2 linked regions of the Homo sapiens genome follow. The protein of the gene in region 1 interacts with the protein of each later gene in a pairwise test. Each region holds a gene or a part of one and is shown on either strand. Other genes may lie near its edges.

Region 1 (3,500 bases):
AAATATATCCACCATTTAAAATCATTCCTATAATAATTTCAAAACAAAAAGTTAAAAGAAAATATGCCTACAGTGTTTCTACCTTAGATCAAATAACATCTATTCTCAAAAGGTCAATTTATTAATAATTACCATAGCCTTTCTCTACTGCTTAGGTCACTTCTGCTTTACCAAAACATACAGAACACTAAGGGGTTACAAGTCATAATGCGTCAATACTCTCTGTATTAACTGTCTTACCCAGATCACAGGTCCATCTCCAGGTCTCGCCTGTTGTTTCCAGATAGGTATCTACAAAATACAATACATTTCGTAAGCCATACCTTTAGTTAAACCACTACTAAATTATTTTCCTTTTTTTTTTTTTGAGACGGGATTTTTTTTTTTTTTTTTTGAGACAGAGTCCTGCTCTGTCACCCAGGCTGGAGTGCAGTGGCACAATCTGGGCTTACTGCAACCTCCACCTCCCGGGTTCAAGCAATTCTCCTGCCTCAGTTTCCCAAGTAGCTGGGATTACAGGCGTGTGCCACCACACCCAGCTAATTTTTTATTTTTATTTTTTGATGAAGGGTTTTGACACAAGGTTTCATCATGTTGGCCAGGCTGGTCTCGAACTCCTGATCTCAAGTGATCTGCCCACCTCAGCCTCCCAAAGTGCTGGGATTATAGGCGTGAGCCACCGCACCTGGCCAAGACAGGATCTTGTGATGCTGCCCTGGCTGGAGTGCAGTGGCTACTCACAGGTGCCATCATAGTATACTGCAGCCTTGAACTCTTGGCTTCAAGAGATCTGCCCGCCTCAGCCGCCTCACAAGTAGCTGGGACTACAGGCACGTGTCACTGTACCTGGCTACTACTATTTAAAGCAATACATACATGAGAAATAAAATATTTTTAAGCATGCAAAAATCAAGGTGAAGGAATGAATGAAGAGGAAGAAATCGAAATCCTTCTAAGTATCCCCAACAATGAAAGCTCTCAAGAGCACTAGTTATTGTATGATGGTCTTTGGAGAGTGAAAAGGGATCTGAACTAGGAATCAGAAGTCCTGGCAGGTATCAAATCTTGCTCTCCCATTTAATTATTCATAGGGCCACCCTAAGTCTTAATCTCTTCATCTATAAAATGAAGAAACTTGTCCAAATATTGCCTGCTTCACAGGGCTTCCATTGGGATCAAATGAGATGATGCCTGCAAATGTGTTTTACAAAATATGAAGGGCTTACTTTTTCTAATTCTTCATGTAAGTTGACTGTAGTTCTATTTAAACTCCAGAGACAAATCCTTACTTTAAAACTGAGAGTATGCGTCTCTAAGCAATTTTTAAAAAGTCTACATCTTCCATCTTGAATTTAAAAAAAGAAAAAAAAATGGCCAGGCACAGTGGCTCATGCTGGTAATCCCACCACATTGGGAGGCCAAGGCAGACAGGTCACCTGAGGTTAGGAGTTCGAGACCAGACTGGCCAACATGGAGAAAGCCTGTCTCTACTGAAAATACAAAAATTAGCCGGCCATCGTGGTGGGACACCTGTAGTCCCAGCTACTTGGGAGCCTGAGACACAAAAATCACTTGAACCTGGGAGGCAGAGGTTGCAGTGAGCCGAGATCACACCATTGTGCTATAGCCTGGGCAACAGAGTGAGACTCCGTACCAAAAAATAAAAGAAAAAACAAACAAACAAACAAAAAAAAACAGGTCTACATTGATACCTAAAGAAAAGGGACTTTATCTGCGTAGACCATCACATATTTCCTTACCTAAAGTAAGGGACTAAGCTGGGCATGGTGGCTCACACCTGTACTCCCAGCACTTTGGGGGGCTGAGGTGGGAGGATCACTTGAGGCCAGGAGTTCGAGACCAGCCTGGCCAACATAGCAAAACCCCATCTCTACTAAAAAATACAAAAATTAGCTGGGCGTGGTGGCACATGCCTGTAGTCTCAGCTACTTGGGAGGCTGAGGCAGGAGAATCGCTTGAACCCGGGAGGTGGAGGTTGCAGTGAGCCAAGAATCACGCCACTGCACTCCAGCCTGGGCGACAGAAGGGACTCAACTCTTCTAACTCAATCGTGCCTTGTAAGGAAAAAAATCTCATTCAAAAGCAAGCTTTTAAATGTTGCTGTATTTAATAAAGCACACTTCAGAAGAGTACTACACCCATGCTATATTTAGCTTTTTTTTTTTTAATTTAGCTTCTAATGTCATCCTAAATCTCTTGTTTTCTTTCTGCAATCACTCACCAACTTACCATCTTCCTCTCATTAGATATGAAGACAGCATAACATTCTTCTAAAGGATACTGGTCATGGTTTTTGATGTATTCACAGAGCTTCCAAATATTTTCTTCACTGAAATAAAATAATTGTTTAATCAAGATTAGAGAACATTCTATGTGTCTTTTAAATTTGAACAAAATACTGATGATGACATCAAAAAGTTGGAAAAGACCTTAAACCCCATGTCATCCAACAACTGGCTAATGTCTGAATCTCCTCTAAAACATCCCAACAAGCTGGTATTCAACCTATACTGTGTGTAAACCCCTCTCCACACAGAGCTAATTACCTCCCCTAGCAGTGCTTGTACATGGAGGCATTTTATAACTGATAAAATATGTCAATATTCTATGAGTTTTGGGCCCAGCAACTTGTAATACAGCTGAAATTCTAACTCAGCCACTTACAAGGTAAGAACCTTTGACAAAGGCCAGGCGTGGTGGCTCAGGCCAGTAATCCCAGCACTTTGGGAGGCCGAGGCGGGCGGATCACGAGGTCAGGAGTTCGAGACCAGCCTGGCAGAGAGACCAGCCTGACCAATATGGTGAAACCCCGTCTCTACTAAAAATACTAAAATTAGCCAGGCATGGTGGCGGGTGCCTGTAATCCCGGCTACTTGGGAGGCTGAGGCAGGAGAATTGCTCGAACCTGAGAGACAGAAGTTGCAGTGAGCCAAAGATCACACCACTGCACTCTAGCCTGGACAACAGAGCAAGACTCCAACTCAAAAAAAAAAAAAAAAAAAAAAGCTTTGACCATCTTGACTTCTCCAAGAATCTGCTTTTCTCATGTGTAAAATGGGCATAATCATATACTGTAAACACACAAAAATCTTAGTTAACACTGGTTCCCTGCTCTCTTTAGAAATGGGGCAGGATGGGTGTTTTGGGTTGAAAGCCTCCTGGCTGGAAAGAATCAGGAGCAATTATGTGATATGTCCGGGAACTCATTTGGGGGAATCCCTGTGAGTGGGATTCCCCATGCCCCTCTAGTAAGAAAGGGACATAATTTTATTTTTTTTATTTATTTATTTTTGGAGACAGAGTCTTACTTCACTGCCCAGGATGGAGTGCAGTGGTGTGATCTCGGCTCACTGCAACCTCCACTTCTCAGGTTCAAGTGATTGTCATGCCTCAGCCTCCTGAGTAGCTGGGATTACAGGCGTGCAGCACCACACCCAGCTAACTTTTGTATTTTTAGTAGAGATGGTGTTTCACCATGT
Region 2 (3,500 bases), on another chromosome or scaffold:
CAGGGTCTCCAGGTGAGAACGGAATCTGAGAGGACAGGAGCCTGGGGCAGCGGGGGCTCAGAGCCCCACCGAGTCTCCCAAGAGAAAGTGGGCTGTAGCCAGGCAGCACTCACGTGTTGCACACGGCCATCGTCTGACACGTCTCTCCTGTGCAGAACTCGGAGATGGTGCTATACTGCAGGTTGATGTGGTGGAAAAACGTCGTGGCTGGAAGAGAAGAGAAGGAGCCAGATGTGAAAAACGCCAGAGCTGAGCCGCCCCGTCCACCCCTGCTTCCAGCAACAGGTGCAGGAGCTCGGCTGGGTGAGCTCTGCCCGTCCACGGGCCACATTCTCCCCTCGCGGCAGGGGGCTGCTGAGCACCAGCCGTGGGGGTCCCCCTTGAGGAGGGGCTTCGAGGAGGAGCAGGGAGGAGGGAGGGGGCCCGCCCCCAGGCCCCCGCGCACTGTTGCTGGCCAGCCACTCGTTAAGGTCAATCTCGCGGGGCAGCACCACCAGCTCCTTGAACTGGAAGTCGGTGATCCTGGCCTTGGTGTGCTCAGGCTCCAGGTAGGCCTTCCTCTCCTCCGCAGCGGGCTTCTTGCCATTAGGCTTGGCTTTGGACTTCCTGCCAAGAGAGGAGACGCGGTGTGGTCACTACACGCCCATCAGACCCAGGGTCTGCCCGGGGGGTCAGTTGTGGCCAGCGCAGGTGTAGAGGGAGCTGCCCGAGCCCATCGGGGCGACACTGCCTCCCTGCCAGGCTCAAAGGACACCAACGGGACACCAACGGTGAGGCTGCTCCGCAGAGGGGCCAGTGGAGCTGCCTTGCGTGGCACCTCCTGGGAAGAAGGGCTGGCGCTCCCACTTGCCACACGGGCCCCTGCACGGAGGGCATCCTCACCCCTCACCAAGTCCTCCAACCAGGGAGGGGCCCAGGGTTTAGGGCCCCCAGCGCCCACCTTCCAGTTTTCCAGTGCTCTTGGAAGGAAAGGAGAAGCAAACCCTCTCACTCCTGGCTTCTTTTGAGTTGGCCAGCCTGTCCCTGCCCCTGCCGCTGGTGGCCCCGGTGAAAACATACCACAGGCCTTGTGCAGGGCACCTGCCTTCCTGGCCAGCCTGAGAGCACGGGGCCCCTGGCATCAGGCGGCAGCCTGGCCTGCAGCTCCAGTATCCCTGTTGTCCACCAGGCCTGGGGAGGCCACAGGGTGATGAGGATGGGGGCCAAAGGTCTTTGTGGCAACCTGACCCTGTCCTTATTTTTTTTCTTTCTTGTTTTGAAAAGTTGCTAATGGTTTATTTAAGAGAAAGAGAAAGGAAAAATGCTCCCTGAATGCCAGGGAAATGTTTCCCTTTCAGCTTCTCACAGCAGATCTTCGCCTTAAAAGGAGACCAGCGCAGGCCTCTGGGGGCAGTGCTGGGAGTAGCCAGAGCCAGGCAGGGAGCAGGGGCAGGAGCAGGGGCAGGGGCAGGGGCAGGGGCAGGGAGGGGCAGGGGCAGGGGCAGGGAGGGGCAGGGGCAGGGCCCCTGGGCCCTGGCACTCCCACTCTGCCATCTCTCCAGAGCACAGGGCGTGGGGTCTGAGGAAGAGGAAGCACAGGTGTGGATGGGCCACATGCAGCGTGGGCACTTGGGGTCCTCACAGTACAGGGGTGGGACAGACAGGGTGAGCTTCCGTGTAGCCTGCAGCCCCTCGCCCCAGCACAGCGAGGCACCCAGACTCCACACCAGCCTGTGCCAGGCCATGCCCAGCGTGTCCACCACAGGGAAGGCTCTCCCCATGACGCTGGGCCTGGCCCTGACCACCGGCAGGTGGGCCTGCACCTCCCTGCCCTGTGCTCTCACAGCACAGCACACCACACCCCACCCGGGCAGCTACAGCCTGGGCTCGGCCTTCCCATTTGGAGGGGTGGGTTGCAGTGGCCCAGGCTGCCAAGCGGGCTACAAGCCGTCTCCCTGCTCTGTGTCTTAGGAGCTGTGTCAACTGGCAAGCTCCAGGTGGCAGTTACCTGGTGGTCGGTCACGCAGGGCTGCCAGCAGGAGCAGCTGTCAGCGCGCTCACTCTCAGGGTGTGCCCCAGGGCCCACTCAGGGAGGCTGCCCTACTGGCAGTTCCTGCCCCCTTGCCAGCCTTCCAGGCTGGGGCTACCTTCCACCTCCGGTCCTCAGAGAGGGCTGGGCAGGGGCAGAACCTGGAGACCTGGCTTCCCTCTCCCAGGCTCTGGCTGTGGTCAGGAGGTAGTGAGCAGCCGCCACTCCGGCACTGGCACCTCAGCCTCCCTGCCTCTTCCCGTCCACACCTGCTCTCCTAGAACACAGAAGAAAAGTACGCACGAGGCCCTCCAGGCTGGGCCTCCCCGAGCTGCTCCCCCAGTCTCACCCTGTCCCCAGCACCCAGGGCTGGCCGGGCCCCGGAGCTTAGTGCACTGTGAGACAAGCCTCCTGCAAGCCTACCTTCTTTGGACCGGGTCACTCATTCCCATGGGGCAGGTGGACGGGCACTGGCCCAAAGGTAGTAGGACCAAGGGGACGCGCAGGACATGGCCTCTGCTCCAGGAACGGCTGTGCGGGCACCAACAGAGGGACTTCCATGGGAAAGCCCCGAACGCCTGGCAGCACCCACGTCTCCCTGACCTCAAGTGCCCTCCTTCCCAGAAGGGCAGGCTCTCAGCGAAGGCCCAGGCCTGGGCAGGAAGCAGTCACTCTGAGGCAGCCCATTGCTCGGTCCAAGCCAGCGGCAGCTACCGAGGAGGCCTCAGAGCACACGACACCTCCATGGCACTCTTCTCGTCCTTAGTCATTCTTGGCTTTGCCCAGTGGAGAAAACACCTCTGCGGCGCCCCCCGCAGGCTCACAGGCTCTGAAACAGGCTCTGTGCCGTCCAGGCCCAGAGGTCTGCCCAGTCACTGCCTCAGTGGCCCAGCTGCCCCTCACCCAGGGAAGTGCCGAGGCCCTGCGCCCTGCTCCCAGCTCCCCCTGTGCTGCTGGCTAGGAGCCCCGGGGCACAGAAAGACCAAGTCCTTCGATGTGGAGGGAGGACTGTGGGAGCAGGCCCCGGCCGCAGGCAGGACAGAGATGGCGCTGAAGGGACTGGGGAGTGGACCCTGGACCTCAGCCCACCCACAGGGCTTCCGTGACCACTTGGAAGAAGCAGAAGGGCAGATGCTGTGTGCACAGCCCCCAAAACAAAGTCCCTCACACTATTCCAACAGGTGGGCTCTGAGCCTGGGTCCTGCCTGGCAGGCACCATGCACTTAGGAGGGCCGGGCCAGATGGAACCACCTCCTTCCTGCCTCCCACACACTCACCAGCCTCACCTCCCTCCTCCCTGCTCTAGATGACCTGTCCTGCCTGCCACAGGGGTCTGCACCCTGTTTGTGGGCACCAGCTGCTGCTCTGCCAACTTGCCCATCTTACACCAGGCCTAGCAAACTTCTCCTGGTCCTTTAAGAGCCTGTCAAATGCCACCCTCCCCATTCTCGCCAGTGGTACCCATGACGTGCCAGTCGGCCTCCTTGGCACC

What was found. The genes of interacting proteins can lie anywhere in the genome.
Region 2: the proteins of NTAQ1 (region 1) and MOB2 interact in binary tests that used the Homo sapiens proteins (3 or more experiments, as listed by UniProt).

What each region holds. Positions count from the first base shown.
Region 1 is NC_000008.11:123,426,774-123,430,273, reverse strand, and holds part of NTAQ1 (protein N-terminal glutamine amidohydrolase), read right to left. Parts: intron 2,351-3,500; coding exon 2,251-2,350; intron 292-2,250; coding exon 241-291; intron 1-240. UniProt on the Homo sapiens protein: Mediates the side-chain deamidation of N-terminal glutamine residues to glutamate, an important step in N-end rule pathway of protein degradation.
Region 2 is NC_000011.10:1,480,280-1,483,779, forward strand, and holds part of MOB2 (MOB kinase activator 2), read right to left. Parts: intron 608-3,500; coding exon of another isoform or gene 607-607; coding exon 446-606; intron 208-445; coding exon 114-207; intron 1-113. UniProt on the Homo sapiens protein: Stimulates the autophosphorylation and kinase activity of STK38 and STK38L.